Regions from separate parts of the Homo sapiens genome. Here region 1 is linked to region 2. Evidence: fine-mapped expression QTL. A gene starts in region 2. The other region holds a variant in brackets. All regions are shown on one strand. Distances are from middle to middle.

What was found. PIP is the estimated chance that this variant, and not a neighbour inherited with it, causes the effect.
Region 1: its variant is fine-mapped to the expression of PIEZO1 in skeletal muscle (GTEx, PIP 0.92).

What each region holds. Positions count from the first base shown.
Region 1 is chr16:88,743,332-88,748,331 of GRCh38, forward strand. All of the region lies in intron 2 of PIEZO1 (piezo type mechanosensitive ion channel component 1 (Er blood group)), which reads right to left. It overlaps PIEZO1-AS1 (PIEZO1 antisense RNA 1), which reads left to right. Exons shown (of 3, transcript NR_120387.1): 1 at 1-159; 2 at 261-1,013; 3 at 1,758-2,417. Among named protein-coding and RNA genes, the nearest start is that of PIEZO1-AS1, 3.1 kb to the left of the region's middle. RefSeq lists an enhancer at 533-1,219 and a silencer at 2,237-2,296. The variant G/C (reference allele first, on the strand shown) is at 2,589.
Region 2 is chr16:88,782,280-88,787,279 of GRCh38, forward strand. PIEZO1 (piezo type mechanosensitive ion channel component 1 (Er blood group)) reads right to left here and starts at 2,941. Exons shown (of 51, transcript NM_001142864.4): 1 at 2,622-2,941. The coding sequence starts at 2,685. RefSeq lists silencers at 1,770-2,089, 2,590-3,069, 3,110-3,439 and an enhancer at 2,172-3,085.

The sequences.
Region 1 (5,000 bases), 39 kb before region 2:
GGCTGTGGACAGCTTCCCTTTCCACCCCGGCACGTGCTGGCAGGAGCTTCCGGGCCCTCACCCTGGGGCAGCAACTCCTGCACCACCAGCCACGCCCGGCCACGAGAAAGTGCAGAACAGCTCAGGCCCTTCTCACAACTTCCTGGAGCTCAGGGACAGGTAGCATCTGGGTCTGGGTCCAAGGTGGTGAATGTCACCACCACATCTGCCCTCTCTCGGCCTCGGGGCGCAAACTCAGGGCCTGTGTCCACTCTGTTCAGTTTTTTGAGCACAAATGGTGTTAGGTGACAGACTCGGGATTGGCCTTGGACACTCAGCCCCCTCTTTCTGGAGCAAAGACTCATGACCCACGTCCAAGTCACCCTGCACATCCCTAAGCCTGACCGTGAAGCAGCCCTCACGGATGCCCAGGACTCCCTGTCCGCACCACCAGGCAGCCGAGGCAGGTTTGGACCAGCTTCTCACACTCACACCTTCCTAGGGTTGCCCCAGGCCCTGACCTGCTGACCCTGCAGCTATGACCTCTGACCTGTGGAGGATGGGAGGGGTGAGCAGCAGGGAGAGTGGGAAGGAGGAATGGAAAACCGTCCAGGAAGGGAGGCTGCAGCCCCGACACGAACAGGAGCCACCACCAGGGGGTGCTGTGCAGGGCTCCCGGAGGACAGGACCTTCCAGGGCCTCCCTGCCCCGAACCCATAGGTGCCAGGCTTCTCACTGCTCACGACCTCCGTGCCGGGCTCATACCTGCCGCGCCAGCCCCTCTTCAGCAGAGCACAAGTCTGGCAGCAGGAGGGCACCAGCCAGGGGCCCCGCGCCCCCGCCTCTGTACAGCAGGGTCACCGTGGGGTGACATGAGAACACCGACCCAGGGAATGGGCTCCTGCCACACCTGCCTGGGAACCTGGGCTGTGAGTCCTGCTCGCTGCACCCTCTAGCCTGACGTTGAAGTAACCTCGCCAGCGGGGCCCTCTGTGGCACTGGGCACTCAGGGAGAGCACGTGGCATTGGAGAAGGTATTCTGAGTCCTACAGAGAGGGACCTGCGGGGCCTGCCCCACAGGCACGTGGGGCTCCTGCTGGGGCTGTCAAGGACCCCCGGGCACTGAGAGGACATCTGGGCCCTTGGGCAGCCAGGCTGACGGGTTCCCTGCACACACGATCCAGCAGCCCGGGAAGGAACTGCCTGACCAGAGACCCCTGGGCAGGGAGGGGCTCTCAGGCCACCTGGCTCCCGCCCACCCGCCTTGCCCTGCACGACAGTCCAGGATGTCCGTCTCTGGCTACATCTCGGATGTCACTGCTTCCCCATTGTCTTCCTCCCTCCCCTTTCCCTGCCTCCTTCCCGGTTCAGTTCTCGGGCCGGCCAGAGTGTCCTGGTCTGGCCATGTTAGAACAGCTGGGCCATGATCCCTCCGCAGGGTCGAAGGGGCCGCAGCTGGGCCTGGAGGCCACTCCTGGCCACGTGGCACGCCCGCTCCCTGCCTGGGCTGGATCAGACTAGGGAGCTGAGAGTCCGAGGGGCACCCCGGGAAGAGACGCTGCTGGAGATGGGAGGGGGCCGGAACGTGCAGAGGGATCGAGGCTCTGCTGACCTGCACGGGGCGGGGAGCGGGGAGGTGCACACAGAGGCCGAGGGGGCACCCTGACACCGGCCCTCTTCTCCGACGCAAACAGCATGACCTCAAGGGGTCGGGTGGCTTTCTCGTGCCTCCACCTGCAGCCCCTGTCCCCGCCCACCCCGTCACTCTCCCCCTGCAGGTCCCACCCCCAAATGCAAAGCTGGGAAAACCAGGCTGAGCCGGGGATCAGGCCACCTCCGCAGGGACCCACTGCTGCCTCTTCCAGGAGCCCAGGAGACCCAGTGGGTCTCCTGCCCCCGACTCCAACTCCCTCCTGGCAGGACACACCCAGCTCACAGTGGCCTTTCCATCCTGGGAAAGGGAGTGAGAGGAGGCTCAGGCCAGGGACCCGCCCAGCTCTGGCCGGCAACCGCCCTTCAGCCTTTCCTGAACCACTGTGTGGGCCCCAACCCATCCGCTGCCTGCCGGAGGGAGCCCATGGGGAATGGACTATTCTTGCCACCCCTATCCATGGCAGGGGAGGGGCTCAGCATGGCTCTTGCCCACCCAGAAGAAGGTGCAGGGGGCCTGGCGTGGTGGTTCACACCTTTGGGAGGCCGAGGTGGGTGGATCACCTCAGGTCAGGAGTTTGAGACCAGCCTGGCCAACATGGTGAAACCCTGTTTCTACTGAAAATACAAAAATTAGCCAGGCGTGGTGATGGGCACCTGTAATCTCAGCTACTCAGGAGGCTGAGGCAGGAGAATCACTTTCACTTAAACCCAGGAGGCGGAGGTTGCAGTGAGTTGAGATCGCGCCACTGCACTCCAGCCTGGGCAACAGAACAAGACTCCGTCTCAAAAAAAAAAAAAAAAAAAGGGGCCGGGGCTCCCCCTCCAGCTTGCAGGGCTCTCAGGAGGAAACAGGAAGGGGCGGGGAGGCCCCAGGGTATTGCAGACCGGATGGTTGACAGAGCATGGACCTCCCCCAGAGCCGGAGCCCTTGGACCCCGGCACGGCCTGCAAAGGCT[G/C]AGGGGCCCCACCACGGCAGCATCCTGATGCGTGGTCCATAGCCACCATCCCCACACCTGCCGGACAAGGGCTGGGCCTGATTGTTCTGTGGGGAGTGTGGAGTTGCCCTGAGTCTGATCCGTGGGGTGTGCATGGGAGCCCCCTGGAACCTGATCCATGGGGTGTGCATGGGACCAGCCAAGGGACCCAGGGTGCCTTGAGGCTGAGCCATGAGGCCCACCCAGCGACAGCTAGGGCTGAGCTGCGGGGTAGGGCCACGAGAGGGGCCTTTTGAGACAGAGGATGGAGACTACACAAGGCTGGCAGAGCCGGGGGACCAGTGAAGCTGGAGAGGGTGGCAGGGCCTCCCTGCACGGGGCATGGTAAGAGGTGGGGGGTGATCTCTCTCCAGACAGCAGGGTCAGTCTTGGAGGTGGGTTTTATCCTAAGGCAGGATGGGGCTTCTGAGTCCCTAAATGACAAGCAGGTCTCTGGGAGCCACCCCCTGTGGCTCTGCCTGCAGCCCTGCCTGGAGCACCAGGGTCTGTTCCCTCTGCCCCAGCCCCAGCCCCTACCCCTCTCCTCCCTGTTCAGTCTGAGCTCAACCTCCAGCCCCCCAAGGATCAGGCTGACGCCTACAAGGGGACCAAGGCTCAGATGGCGTCAGAGCTTCCACCAGGGCCACGCCAAGCCCAGCAGCTGCACAAATCATAAAGCCCCGGGCACTCGGCTCGGGCAAGCCTCACACTTTCCTCTCTCCCTCCCGGAAAACTGGGCAGCATCTCCGTCTCTGAAGGGCCTCTGACGAGGCTCAGGCAGGGAAGTCCTCCCGGGTCCTCTCCAAATCTTCCCACCCCAGCTCCTCCCCTGGCCTGGCTGGGCGCCTGCCTTCCCCCACTGCTGATTAAAGGAAAGTGTTTCCAATTGCGCCCTGGGCATGAAATATTTACGGAACAAACGGCGAAACGCCAGGGGCCTGGGAACAGACAGAACCGGCTCCACAGAGCAAAGGGGAGGCCCAGGATAGGGACCGGGAGTGGGGGTGCCCACCCACCCCAGCCATGCATCCTGGAGGGGTTTGGGCCTCGGGCCCCAGCGACTCCCAGCACTCGGCCGCACTGGGCCCCTCCCAAAATGCCTCTCTGCACCCCTGAATTCTACCCATGATCCAAGATCAGTGCCTGCGCTGGGCACAGTGACTCACACCTGTAATCTCAGCACTTTGGTAGGCTAAGGCAGGAGGATCGCTTGAGCCCAGGAGGTGGAGGCTGCAGTGAGCCATGATCATGCCACTGCTCTCCAGCCTGGGCAACCAAGCAAGACCCCCACTCGAAAAAAAAAAAAAAAGCCAAGCACGGTAGCTCATGCCTGTAGTCTCGGCCGAGGTGGGCAGATCACCTGAGGTCAGGAGTTCAAGACCAGCCTGGCCAACATGGTAAAACCCCTGTCTCTACAAAAACACAAAAATTAGCCAGGCATGATGGTGGGCGCCTGTAATCCCAGCTACTCGGGAGGCCGAGGCGGGAGAATCGCTTGAACCCGCGAGGCGGAGGTTGCAGTGAGCCCAGATCGTGCCATTGCACTCCAGCCTGGGTGACAGAGTGAGACTCCATCTCAAAAAAAATAAATAAAAAAGACCATTGCCCACCCCACAGCACCACGAGCTAGGAGGAGCCTCTGGGATGCTTCCAGCCAGATGTCGCGAGGCCGGAGAGCGACCTTCCACCTGCAGCTGGCAGAACGATGGACCCCAATGATGCCTGCACCCCAGTCCCCAGAATCTGTGAACGCAGAAGCTCACATGCAGAGGCGAGTCCAGGCAGCAGAGGAAATGGGGGCTGCCCAACAGCTGACCTTAAACCAGGGAAGTCGGCCTGGATTAGCCGGGGAGGCAGATGGGACGAAGCCACAGGGTTACCGCAGGGGAGAGGGAGCAGGAGAGACAGGGTGTGATCCTGACCCCACCCCACCGGCTCTGGAGATGGAGGGAGGGGCCCCAAGCCCAGGAAGGTAGGCACCTGGAGCAGCTGGAAGAGGAAGCAGATCCTCCCCAGAGTCCCCTGGAAAAACGCAGCCCGGTGGACACCTCGTAGCCATGGACAGGCCCCGACGCTGCCAGCCTGATGCGTCCAGCACCTCCCAGAAGGGCGGCACCCAAGAGCCTGTCTCCACAGTCACGCCCCCTGGTCCTGCTTGGCCTCCTCTCTGCCCTCTGCTGGGGAAGGTCTCTTGCTGCCTACACTTGCCCTCCCTGGGGACCTTCCTTCCTTTCAGTGGCTCTTCACCCTCCAAACCCAAAGACCAGCGGAGGGCCCGGCCCCACCCACGTTTGGCCCATGGCCTTTGGGGACAGGTCTCTGAGTGTTTGCTCCAAAACGCGCTCTCCTAAAACGTGGGCACAAAATGGACATGGCCCCCACAGGGCAGGTAGG
Region 2 (5,000 bases):
TTTAAATATTTTTCATAGAGATGGGGATCTCTACGTTGCCCAGGCTGCTCTCGAATGGCTACGCTCAAGCAATCCTCCCACCTTGGCCTCCCGAAGCTCTGGGATTACAGGTGTGAGCCATCGCGCCCAGCCCTGCCCTGACATCTCTCTAGAAGAGATGGGCCCTGATCCCCCAAGGCTCCAGCAACATTAGGTGAGACTGCTGAAGGAGGCCCCTGCTCCCTGTGGGTGGGGCAGCTCCCTGCCAGATTTTTGGGTAATGATCCTGCACTGGAGAGGGAGGGCGTGGGGGCCAGGGGCACCCCAGGATGACTCAAACCCTCACCAGGCACTGTCTGAGCCAGCGCAGGCACACACTGACTAATGCCTTCTGAAGGCCTCATTCATTTCCAAAACACGGTAGAACTGCTTCCAGCCAAAGCTCGCCAGAGAGGGAGGGGGCACTCCAAAGACAGCAAAGCCAGTGTCCCACCTCCGGCCAGGCCAGCTGAACCTGCACATCGCGGGTCCATCTGGAGCTGCCCACACCCCAGGGCCAGAGAGCCTGACTCAGGAGTCCCGGCCAGCAGGCAGGCAGGCAGGGTTCTTGGCCGGCTCCACTTCCATCTCCCCCAGGTGACTGAGAGAAAACACTGAGTGAGGCCCAGGCCCCACGCCCCATCCCCAGACACAGAATCAGTGTGGGGTATGGCCCGGGCTTCAGCATCTTTCAAATTAAGAGACTTTATTTGGGACCAGTTTTAGGTTTAAGGAAAGTACCATACAGACAGACAGTCAGTCATCACTATTCTTTAAAAGTTTCATAGAAGACTGACACGGGGCCTGGGTGAGCACCCCTGGGCTACCTCCCCATCCTCCCCAAGGAGGCCAAAAGCAAGAAGAACAGTGATCCCTCCCCCAGATCCCCCACGCGGATAGCAATCGAGAAGGCAGAACCCAGGCCCCCTGACCAATGCCCAGGGGGCAGCAAACCACATGTGCCACAGAATCGGGCTCAACACCTGTTTAGGTACAGCCCATGAACTCAGGAGGGCTTTTACATTTAATGGCTGGAAAAATACCAGAAGAAGAAGATTTTGTGACATGAAAATATTTACCATCTGGTCATTTAAAGAAAAACATTGCCAACTCTGCCCAAGGAGCAGCTGCCATCTGAGAGGGGGGGCATTCCCTGCAGGGAGGACACCCGCTCCCACTCAGACACAAGAGGAAATGGAACGATCAGTGTGAACGGGACGTTTCAGAAGCTTTCCTGTTTCCCTCTCTAAGGCCTGTCAGCTCTAGACTCTGCCTCTGTGCCAGGCTGTCCTGCTTGTTTTCAAGGCACAGGAAGGAACACAGCCGGGCCCTGTTTACGGCCCATCTGACCCTGCACTGGGAGCAGGTCCCAGGCTGCCCAGTCCACACAGGGCTGACCGCACTGAAGAGAGTTGCTCAAAACCTCTCCTCTCCAGCCTCAATGGTTTTCATTGATTCCTGTCTAGAAAATCTTCCCCAAGTTTCACCACCTTTCTGTGCGACCGATCAAAACGCAGTCTGTCTGGGAGCCTCAGGCAGGCGGCTCTAGATCCCCAAAGCTAGCGCTGGGCGAGCTCCCACCTGGAGCGAGGCAAGGGCTCCGAAAGGGCTTTTACAATCAAAAGGCCCCACCTGCCGTGTCCATGGCGGACTCCCAATGCAAACCGTCCCACTTGTCCGTGGGTTAATTCCATCCGACTGCTTCCCAGATCAATCACACGTGGGGAGCCCCCGGGCGGAGGGCGCGGACCCTGGGTCCCGGCTAGGCCAGGGTCGGGGAAGGGTAGGGGTGCCAGGCCGTGCAGCACCAAGCCACCCGGGTGTGCTTCGCGAAAGGGGCACCACTGCCCGGCAAGCAGGGAACACAGATGCCAGGACTGGGGACCCCTGCCCCGCCCTGACACCAGGCCACAGCCTCCGGGGGTGTCCCCTCCCCCAGACCAGGGCAGAGGCCGGCCCCCGCCCCTGCGAAACTGAGCCCAGTAGGGCAAGGGAGGACCAGGGAGGAACCCACACTATTTTTTTCCAAAGTGTGGGACCGCCTCAGTCCGGCAGAGGGGGGTGCAGCGGTGAGCGGGGCTGGGCCCTGGGCACGGACGTTCGTTGGGCTCGGGAAGCTCCAAATTAAACAGCTCCAGGCAGGAAGCCCGCCTTCTCCCAGATTGTCAGGAAGTCCTGATGCAACTTTGCGCTTTTTTTTTTAAACCCGAAAGAGAAAAAGAGATTCGTGCTCCCCCCACCACCGCCGCGGCCCTTCCCACCGGGGCAAACACCGCCTCGCCCGGCGGCCTCCTCTCCGCAGCGCCCCGGCGGAGACGCCAGCCGCGCTATGCCCGGCGCTCGCTCGACCGCCCCCGTGGGCACGCGGTGCCGTCTCCCCCAGCCGCCGCCGCCCTTCCAGCCCGGCCCTGGGACAGGAGCCCCGCCGCCGCCTGGCGCGCTCATGCTTCAGGAATGCGGGCGCCCGGGTCGCGCGTCCCTGGGAATTTCCGCGCCCGCTCGCCCGCAGCCCTCGCCCCGGCCGGCGTCGTCCGGTGTCCAGGCCGTGGGGAGCCGAGACGCAGCCCCCTCCCGTCGCCCCCAGGCGCCCGCCCCCCACTCACCAGCCAGCAGCGCGCAGGGCAGCAGCAGCCAGTACAGGACCGCGCCGAGCACGTGCGGCTCCATGGCTGGAGGGCCCAGGGCCCGGCCCAGACCGAGCGGACGCCGCGGCGCTATGGGGCGGTGCGGGGGCCCCGGGGCCGGCGCGCCATGGCTGACCCGCGGGGACCCGCGCGCCGCCTTCTCCTCTTCCTCCTTCTCCTTCGGCCGCCCCGCCGGTGCCGACGTCCCGGGCCCGCGCTCGCTCAGGCGACCGCCCTGCCCCTCGGCGGAGCGCAGCGCTCGGCTCACTGGGGCCGAGCTGGGCCGGACGGCGGCTCCCGCCCTCCTCCGCCCGCGGGCCTTTATAAGCTCGGCCCCCTCCCGCCCTCCCCGGCGTGCCCGCCTCCGCGCTTCCCCGACGGCCCGGCGCGCCCAGGCACCCCCTCCGCTGTCCCGCGCGGCCCGTCCCGCCTCCGGCCCGCCCTGGTGCGTTGGGGCCTGGAGACCCCCGACTGGCGCTGGCCCGGAGCGGACCCCTCCCCTCCCGCAGTCTTGGCCCCGCGGCTCCGAGCGTGCGCGGCGGTGGGCAGGGGCGCTTCTCGCTGGGTGGGCTGCGGCTGGGGCCCGGGCGCTACATAAGGGGTCCCGGGGCCTCTGGCTCCCCCAGGCAGCGCCCCACGCGCAACTGCACCCCGCGTGCCCGAGCGACTTTCGCTTTGCTCCCCGAGGCGCGAGCACGCAGCGCCCCCTGGGGACCGTGGGGAGGCTCGGAGTTCCCGCGGCGGCCGGGCCTAGTGGTCCCGGAGGGAGCACGCGGGATGCTCGGGTCGCAGCAGTGCCGCGATCCGCGTTGGTCTGACGGGGGCTCGGGGGCTGCTCCCAGCCACGCCGGCCACCGCGCGCGGCTTTGCCCGGGTCGCTCTGGCGTGAGACGGTGAGAGTGAGAGCCACGGCCTGTGCACCTGCTGCCGCGGCGCCCTGCCACGGAGAGGTAGGGTCTGAGTCCAGGGTGTTCGGGACCCTCACCCAGGCCACGTCAGTTTGGCCTTCGTCTGCCCTTGAGATGGGCACAGAAAGAGGGCAAAGGGCTCTACACCGTTTAATTGGGCTCAGTTCATGGCTCTCAAACTCAGCTGCGTAAGGCAGGGAGTGGGGCTGGGGGGACTGTGGCCACTGAGCCTCAAGGCACTGGCAACTCATGAGAGCCCAGCACAAGCCCACACCCTCCAGCTCAAAAAAAAAAAAAAAAAAAAAAGATGGCGGGGCAGTGGCTCAGGCCTGTAATCCCAGCACTTTGCGGGGCTGAGGCAAGGGGGTAGGGGGTCGGGGGATCACTTGACGTCAGGAGTTCGAGACCAGCCTGGCCAACATGGTGAAACCCCGTCTCTACTAAAAATACAAAAATTAGGCCGGGCGCGGTGGCTCACGCCTGTAATCCCAGCACTTTGGGAGGCCGAGGCGGGTGGATCACCAGGTCAGGAGATCGAGACCATCCTGGCTAACACGGTGAAAACCCATCTCTACTAAAAACATAAAAAATTAGCCGGGCGTGGTGGCGGGCTCCTGTAGTCCCAACTACTCGGGAGGCTGAGGCAGGAGAATGGCATCAACCCAGGAGGCGGAGCTTGCAGTGAGCCGAGATAGCGCCACTGCACTCCAGCCTGGGCGACAGAGCCAGACTCCGTCTCAATAAATAAATAAATAAATAAATAAATAAATAAATAAATATACAAAAATTAGCCGGGCGTGATGGCAGGCGCCTGTATTCCCAACTACTCAGGAGGCCGAGGCAGGAAAATCGCTTGAACCTGGGAGGCAGAGGTTGCCGTGAGCCGAGATCATGCCATTGCACTCCAGCCTGAGTGACAAGAACGAAACTCCATTAAAAAAAAAAAAACCACCCAGAAATGGAGATTTTCATGGGAAGTCTAGTGTTTAAAGGCTGATATAGGCCGGGTGCGGTGGCTCACGCCTGTAATCCCAGCACTTTTGGAGGCCGAGGCGGGTGGATCACGAGGTCAGCAGATGGAGACCATCCTGGCTAACACGGTGAAACCCCATCTCTACTAAAAATACAAAAAATTAGCCGGGCGCGGTGGCGGGCGCCTGTAGTCCCAGCTACTCGGAAGGCTGAGGCAGGAGAATGGCGTGAACCCGGGAGGCGGAGCTTGCAGTGAGCCGAGATCACCCCACTGCACTCCAGCCTGGGCAACAGAATGAGACTCCATCTCAAAGAAGAAAAAAAAAAAAGGCTGATTTACTTTCTCTGCAAGTCTCACCCTCTGGTCAGGCTTTGAAAAGTTGCTGCAGAGGTGGGGAAGTCTGGGAGCTTGCCCTGCAGATGGACTTGCAAAGGTAGAGGATGTATGTGTCCTAGAATTGTTCAAGCAGCAAAAAGC